Homo sapiens: one gene and its partner. The protein of the gene in region 2 interacts with the protein of the main gene of each other region in a pairwise test. Each region holds a gene or a part of one and is shown on either strand. Other genes may lie near its edges.

Region 1 (3,500 bases), about 52 Mb from region 2:
CTTCATGCCTGTTCTAGTTGAGGACTATCCTGGGTATAAATGGAAAATATTTTCCTGAGAAATTACCGTAAGTTCTTTCTAAAATAACCTCAGAAAGAGCTTAAAATAAAGCTTATTGTGCCGTCGCCTTTATTTCAGGGAATCACGCTGAAGCTGAATGAAAAACAGTCCTGTACGGTGGCCAGAATTCTTCATGGTGGCATGATCCATAGACAAGGTACTCTGTGGGAGCTCTGGGTGGGGTTTGATTCAGGGATTAATAATTTACTCCCTGTTCAGTGGTGTGGGGCATGAAGCTTATAATCCTCCAAACTGGTAGCATTTTTGTGAGTGTGCCAAGAGACTTTTTGTGGCTTAATAACTGGCTCTGTAGAATCAGTACATGATAAGATCTCTATGTGAATTGCCCAGTGCCACCATCTCCCTATCTGAGCCTTCTTTCACACCTATTTATACCAATATTTTTCTAGTAAGTTAATATTTGAGCAATTGCCACATGCCACCCATTGCATTAGACTTGGAAAGGACAGCAGTACCACTTGGTAGCATTTTGGGGTTTGAGCTAAACAACAAAGAAACATGGAGCTTGCTGGTGAAAGAGGAGTACTGAGTTCTTTGCCTTGCTTTGTTATTCTTTTTAGTGTATACATCTGTGTCATAGTCTGGAGTCAGTAGCCACTCTAGTTCCAGGAATTTGAGGACAAGGTGTTTTATTGTGCTGTTGGACTACTGAGGCCAAGGAGGATGAGACCATCTTAAACTGTCAAGTCAAATGTTTTCAATCCTGAGTATTTGACACAATCTGTTTCATAACATGCTGTAAATCCTGGTTTCTCTTCTATGGTATCTTGAGTTACATTGACAGCTCCTGTTTGAACTTTTGTTCTTTTGTGGATTGATTTTTCATTTCATGGCAGGCTCCCTTCACGTGGGGGATGAGATCCTAGAAATCAATGGCACAAATGTGACAAATCATTCAGTGGATCAGCTGCAGAAGGCGATGGTGGGTATTTTCTATGCTAGATGAAGACCTTCCATTGTCTCCATAAGTGTTGATCCACATTGGTATCAGTGACCTCATCTCTCTGTCAAAGTATTTGTACCTTCTTGAGGGGGCTCTTTTCACTGCTAGTCTTTAATCTGTGTAAGAAATGATAATTTTCTGCCTTTATTTAGTAAAATTCTAAAGCAGGGCAAATAACCCAGAGCATCAATCTGGTGTTCCATGAAGTAATGCCAAATGAAGTAAAGCAAGCTATAACGTATATAGTAGAATCCCATTTTTGTTAAAAACAAACAATACATATGTATGCATAATGTATGTAAATATTTGTAATGCTTTTGTTGGTATGGGGAAAGGCGTGGATATATATGCGCCATAGTTCATTTTTAGGAACTTCTTCAGGACTTTTTGGGGTAAAGAATGGGGAAGAAAAGTCTTTTTTTTTTTTTTTTGAGATGGAGTTTCGCTCTGTCACCCAGGCTGGAGTACAATGGCGTGATCTCGGCTCACTGCAACCTCCGCCTCCTGGGTTCAAGCGATTCTCCTGCCTCAACCTCCCAAGTAGCTGGGATTACAGGTACCCACCATCACGCTGGCTAATTTTTGTATTTTTAGTAGAGACAGGGTTTCACCATGTTGGCCAGGCTAGTCTTGAACTCCTGACCTCAGACGATGCGCCCACCTCAGCCTCCCAAAGAGCTGGGATTACAACAGGCGTGAGCCACCGTGCCCAGCTCGGAAAAGTCTTTAGTTAGCTTTTCTTTGTTACTCTTTGCATGTCTTCATATTGTTATGCTGATTTATGGGGCACATGACACTTTTGTATTAAAGGAGGAATTGTCCTACAAAATCTCAAAATGTAAAGATGGTTGTTGGGGAAAAAAACCTGGGACTTTGAATGAATGATCACATCATTCAACTTAGTTTTCTGTACAATTTTATGTCCATTTTTTTTAATAGAAAGAAACCAAAGGAATGATCTCATTAAAAGTAATTCCCAACCAGCAAAGCCGTCTTCCTGCACTACAGGTGGGTGGCACCATTTTCTCTGTTGTCATGATGGCAGGAGTCGGGCCATGTTGTCTTATATTCTTTGAAATTTGATTATAAGGGATGTGAGTCTAACTTTAAGTTCTAAGTATCTCGCAAGTGTGTAGCTGCTTGGCTCAGGGTCCCATTATTCCCTGCCTGGTATAAAATACAGGAGCTCATTCCCCTTTCCTCAATGGAGAACATAGTGACGACAGGAGTAGAGAATGAATGAGCCTTTGCTGCTAGTGGTCAGGTAGGAAGGGAGAGGGTAATTTTATTCTACAGATGGTAAGGAATCAATACAGCTCCAAGAGGAAAATGGGTAAAGGGAATGAAGAGATCATTCACAGGAGGAAAACTACAAATGAGCATTGAACATATGAAAAAATATTTTATCTTACCGATCATCAAAGAAATGCAAATTAAAATATGCATGAGACACCAGTTTTCACCAAGCAAATTGGCAAATACTTTTTAAAATAGCAATAATAAAGCCCCGTGATTGATAGTGGCAAAGTAAAGAAAGAAACAAAAGATAGATAGAATCTGTTGAGCACTTATTCACAATTTATTGAGGGTCTACCATGTACAAAGTACTGTGCTAGAACATGGAGGTGATATAAAGAGAAATGGTTCCCAGTTCACACATAGCTCATCAGCCAGTAGAGGAATAGATTGGACAGGGCCATGGCAAGTCAATGTGGAAGAAGGAGATATTTAAAAGAATAAATCTGAAGTTTCTATTGCAGGTTACTTGTAGTGTGACGGTATAATTTTCTTAAGTAAACTTTTAAATTGCAGTTTTGGCATATATGGGCATATATTCAACAAAGGGCACAAATCACAAGTATAAAACTGGATGAATTTTCACAAACTGAGTACACCCATGCCTAAGACCGCCGCCCCCTCACCATGCGTGTTTCCTCAAGGCCCACCATAACCCTGACTTCTAACAGCAGGGATGAGTTTTGCCCCCTTTTGAAATGTATTAACGTTGAATTATACAGTATGAATTCTTTGGTGTCTTATTTTATTCGCTCAGTATTATGTTTATGGGAATCATCTATATTGCTTCATTCTCATTCATTCATTGTATGAACATGCTACAATTTAATCTATTCTGTCAGCTTTTTTGGTCTTACATTGAATGGCTGCCATTCACCAAACAGGATCTAATTCAGCAATATGAGAAGATTTACTGCCTGAAGGGCAATAAATTCACCACGTTAACAGAAAAATGGAGAAAAATCATATGATTTTTGTGCATGTGTTTTGTGGATACATCTATGCCTTTCTTTTGAGAGTAGAATTGCCAGGTTGTAGGATATATGTGTCTTCATCTTTAGGTGATATTGCCAAATAGTATTCCAAAGTTGGTGAACCATGTTACATCCCCAACTGCACAGTATGACAGTTCTGGTTGTTCTGTATTCTCACCAATACTTAGCATTGTCTGATTTGTTGG
Region 2 (3,500 bases):
GATTGGAGTTCTGAGTATTTGGTTGACAGACCTACACTCTAATCTCTAAACCCAATTTCTGCCTTTCCAAATCTAGGGCTTTGGTTATATAACACTTCTGGCCTCCTAGTACTCCTTGTGGCTTATCTTCCCATTTCCTGCCCCAATATCTACCAATTACCTCATAGGCATAATCCTGGCTCACCCCACCCCATCACTTGTACACAAATGTGAGGTCAGAGGTGACTAGAAAGATGGAAGACAGTGGCACCAAGATATGATCTGGTCTAACCCACTTGGCAACAGCCTTTCCATAACCCCAATCAACGGGGGTGCTCACACATAAACCTACCTTGAATCCAAATGAATAGTTTTTGTTCTTTCTTAATTAACTTCCAAGTGAACAGCTACATACAGATCTCTACAGGAACCTAGAAAGAAACAGACCTAAGGATAGAAAGGAAGGCAGAGGAAAGAAAACAGAAGAGACTAAGATGATCTAATGCCTATAACAAGGATTATAACATATGCTTTTGAATATTCAAGGCTATGTTAAATGTCTCCCACCTGTCTGCTCTTCCTCAATGATTCCCTAATCACCCCAAGACCTGCAGCCTGATTACACCTCCTGCCAACTTTGAAGTCAGTCATTTTCCCAATAGAAGTTACAGCTCCTTTCCTGAACCAAAAAAAATGAGGTGCAGAAATAGGTAGTGGAACATAGGCAATTGTACTTACAAGGCAGGCAGGGAACATAATGGAGACTGTTATTTTAATACCATCTGTGCATGTCCTTCCCCTTCCCCATGCATACCTAGATCCTACTTTATTCACCACCTATGTCAGCCTGCTTATACAGCAGGAGTTCTCAGGAGATGCTATCCTTCCCACCAAAGAAGAGTCACGCCCTACAAAAAGAAGGCGGAGCAACTAGCAAAAAATAACCCCAAGAGACTATGTTAACAATGGTAGAAAAATAGCAGGTTAATGGACAGATTCCCAGAATTCGGATTCTAACACCTCCTTTTTGAGAATCAGAAACTAAGTAAATAAAGTCTCCCAACTCTCATAGCTCCTCAGATATCCACCATCAGAAATGCCATGAATTCTTCTGTGGGACTATTTCTGCACCAAAATGAGAGGGTCTGTGAGGAGTGGCTGGAGATGGAGTTTTGGTTTCCAGAACCATAAACTGAAGAAGCAGATTGACTTCAAATGTTCTAAATTGACCCTTCAAAAAGATTACCCCTCTACTCGGAACCCACATTCTCACACATCATTACATTACTTAAAGTGGATCAGCATGTTGAGAAAACAGATCCTGAACAAGAAAGGTGGAAAAATACTACCCTGTTATTTACATGGACCACTGTTGTGAAATTCGACTAAGTCCACACCCTATTTGCTTGCACAAAACTGGATGTGGGGATCTAAATATGTAAGGCAATAAAACAGTGCGGTATTATAAAAGGCGGTTAAACATTTCATTTTAGTGTCTTCATAATTCACCCACTCAAAGTTCCACTTTTGGAGAACCCAACAGACCTATCACGCAGACAGGAGACTTTAACAACCACCTGGAGCCTGTGGGAAGGGACAGCACCCAAGACACGGGGTCCCACAGGCCCCTTTCCGGAATCAGGGCCCCGAGTAGCGAACGCGGCCCACCTCTCGTGGGCTGGGCACAGAGCTGGGACGCCGGCTCCCCCCGGCCTTCCCGGGAGCCCCCCACAATGGCTCCCGCTCCGCCATTTCTCCCGCAGGAGCTCCCCCACAGCCCTTTCCGGGCACAGACACCGTCGAGGGCGGGGCGCCGGCGCCTGCAAAGCTGGCTTGGAGGCGGTCAGCGCGGTTCTCCTCCAGACGATCTGACGGTGCCTCTCAAGCCAGCCCCTCAGCCCTTGGCCTGGCTCGGCCTGCACCGGTCACCGCCTCCCCATCGCCAGGGGTCTCGAGCACTGCGCACCTCTCTCCGGCGACCGGCTCCGACCGGATCGTCTCCTCCTTGCCAGGATGTCAGGGTCGGCGGGGCAGGCTGCCAGCCGGTCCACCCTGGCGGACCACCCCAAGCTCACGCACCCCCACTTGCCTTCAGAGGCCCAGGGCCCAGGTCGTCGACCTCCCCCTCCTCTCCTCAGCTCTCCTCTGGCGGCTCCTCACTTCGATTCTCACCGCTTTCCCCGCTATCAGAATGGCAAAGACGCGTCCCGCCCCCCACGCCTCTGCACCAAACTGGGCAGGGGCTGCGCAGGATGCTGCAAGAACCGCTCTCTCCGCGAGGGTGTCGGGAAGGGGGGCGGAGGGATACGGCGCGAAAGTGCTCGACGCCCCCCTCTCAGGCCCACCTTAGTTCCGACCCAGAGGTGGGCGGGGCCATGACGAGCCCCAGCCTGGGCCTGCGGGTTGGCACCAGGCTGCCTCAGGAGGACCCCCGCGGACCCTAACGTGGCGACCACCACCACCACATTTCTGGCGTTGCTATAATATAGGGACGGGCGGGCGGCTGGGGACCCAGGCAGGGGACAGGATCAGGAGGTTGGGAAGAGCCGCGCTGGAGGGAGCAGCGGATGGATACCAAACCGCCCCTTGGTGTGTCTGCACCCCCGCCCCAACTCCCCAACCAGGGACTGCTGGGTGTCTGCCCCTTCCCTCTCCCCAGCCCTCTCACTCTCCTTCCTGGAAGCTAATGGGAGAGGGGGTGTCAGCAGTGCAGTCTGGGAGGGGTGAGGCGATTTCAGGCCAAACAAGCCTGGGCCTCTAGGGTGGTCCTCTTGTGCGTTTCTTTCCCAGCTTCATGGAGCCACGCAGGGGAGGAAGGTACACCTGCTCTTAAGTGAATTCTGGGGCAGGGGGCTCCCATCAAGGCCTCACCACTGCCCCTCTTCTAACAGAAGGTAGACCTAGACCTCTAACCCTAGGAAACCAACCACTGGTCTGTACCAGACTCATTTCTTTCTGCCACGCCGCTTTTTCTCATTTCAAATGGTGGCTCAGGTTGGCATTGCGCCGTCCCCACAGTTGACCCCAAAAGAGGGCCTTTCCCTGTCAGGACTCGCAGGAGGTCGTAACAGTCCTCTCTCTTTGATGGCACCAGGTAGGGATGGTCTTGGCGCCTCTCCACTGTTCTGGGAGGAGAGGGGACCACTATTCGCGCACTTCCTCGAGGCAGATCCCAGATTCCAGCTGCGCTCCTCAACTCCTCCTTTTCTCCCAGCCTTGCACCCTGCCTAATGCATGCATGTGCTTTTTTCTTCTGAATATATATATATTTTTTTACTCTCCCTTCCAAGCGATGGGGAGTTTGACTTGTTAGACTGGAAGTTTCCTGAATGAAAGTACCCTTTTGGTATTGTTCCCCACTGTATTCTCAGCACATTGTAGACGGTATAGTCAGTCAAGGGTTGAAGGAGGTGAGGGGCTACTGAATCATGACAATTCCATGGTACCCTCTGTGGTTTGCAGATCAATGCTAATTCATAGGTGTGTCTTTGCTGCCTGTAACCCCAGGGCTTAGCCCAGAG

Evidence for each region.
Region 1: the proteins of GPRASP3 (region 2) and MPP1 interact in binary tests that used the Homo sapiens proteins (3 or more experiments, as listed by UniProt).

The regions. Positions count from the first base shown.
Region 1 is NC_000023.11:154,788,486-154,791,985, reverse strand, and holds part of MPP1 (55 kDa erythrocyte membrane protein), read left to right. Parts: intron 1-138; coding exon 139-217; intron 218-917; coding exon 918-1,003; intron 1,004-1,963; coding exon 1,964-2,032; intron 2,033-3,500. UniProt on the Homo sapiens protein: Essential regulator of neutrophil polarity. Regulates neutrophil polarization by regulating AKT1 phosphorylation through a mechanism that is independent of PIK3CG activity.
Region 2 is NC_000023.11:102,744,743-102,748,242, reverse strand, and holds part of GPRASP3 (G protein-coupled receptor associated sorting protein 3), read right to left. Parts: intron 2,265-3,500; exon of another isoform or gene 2,069-2,264; intron 427-2,068; 5' UTR 332-426; intron 1-331. UniProt on the Homo sapiens protein: Survival and differentiation promoting protein that plays a role in the regulation of neurosynaptogenesis. Induces phosphatase PP2A activity which results in APP dephosphorylation and inhibits BACE1-mediated processing of APP.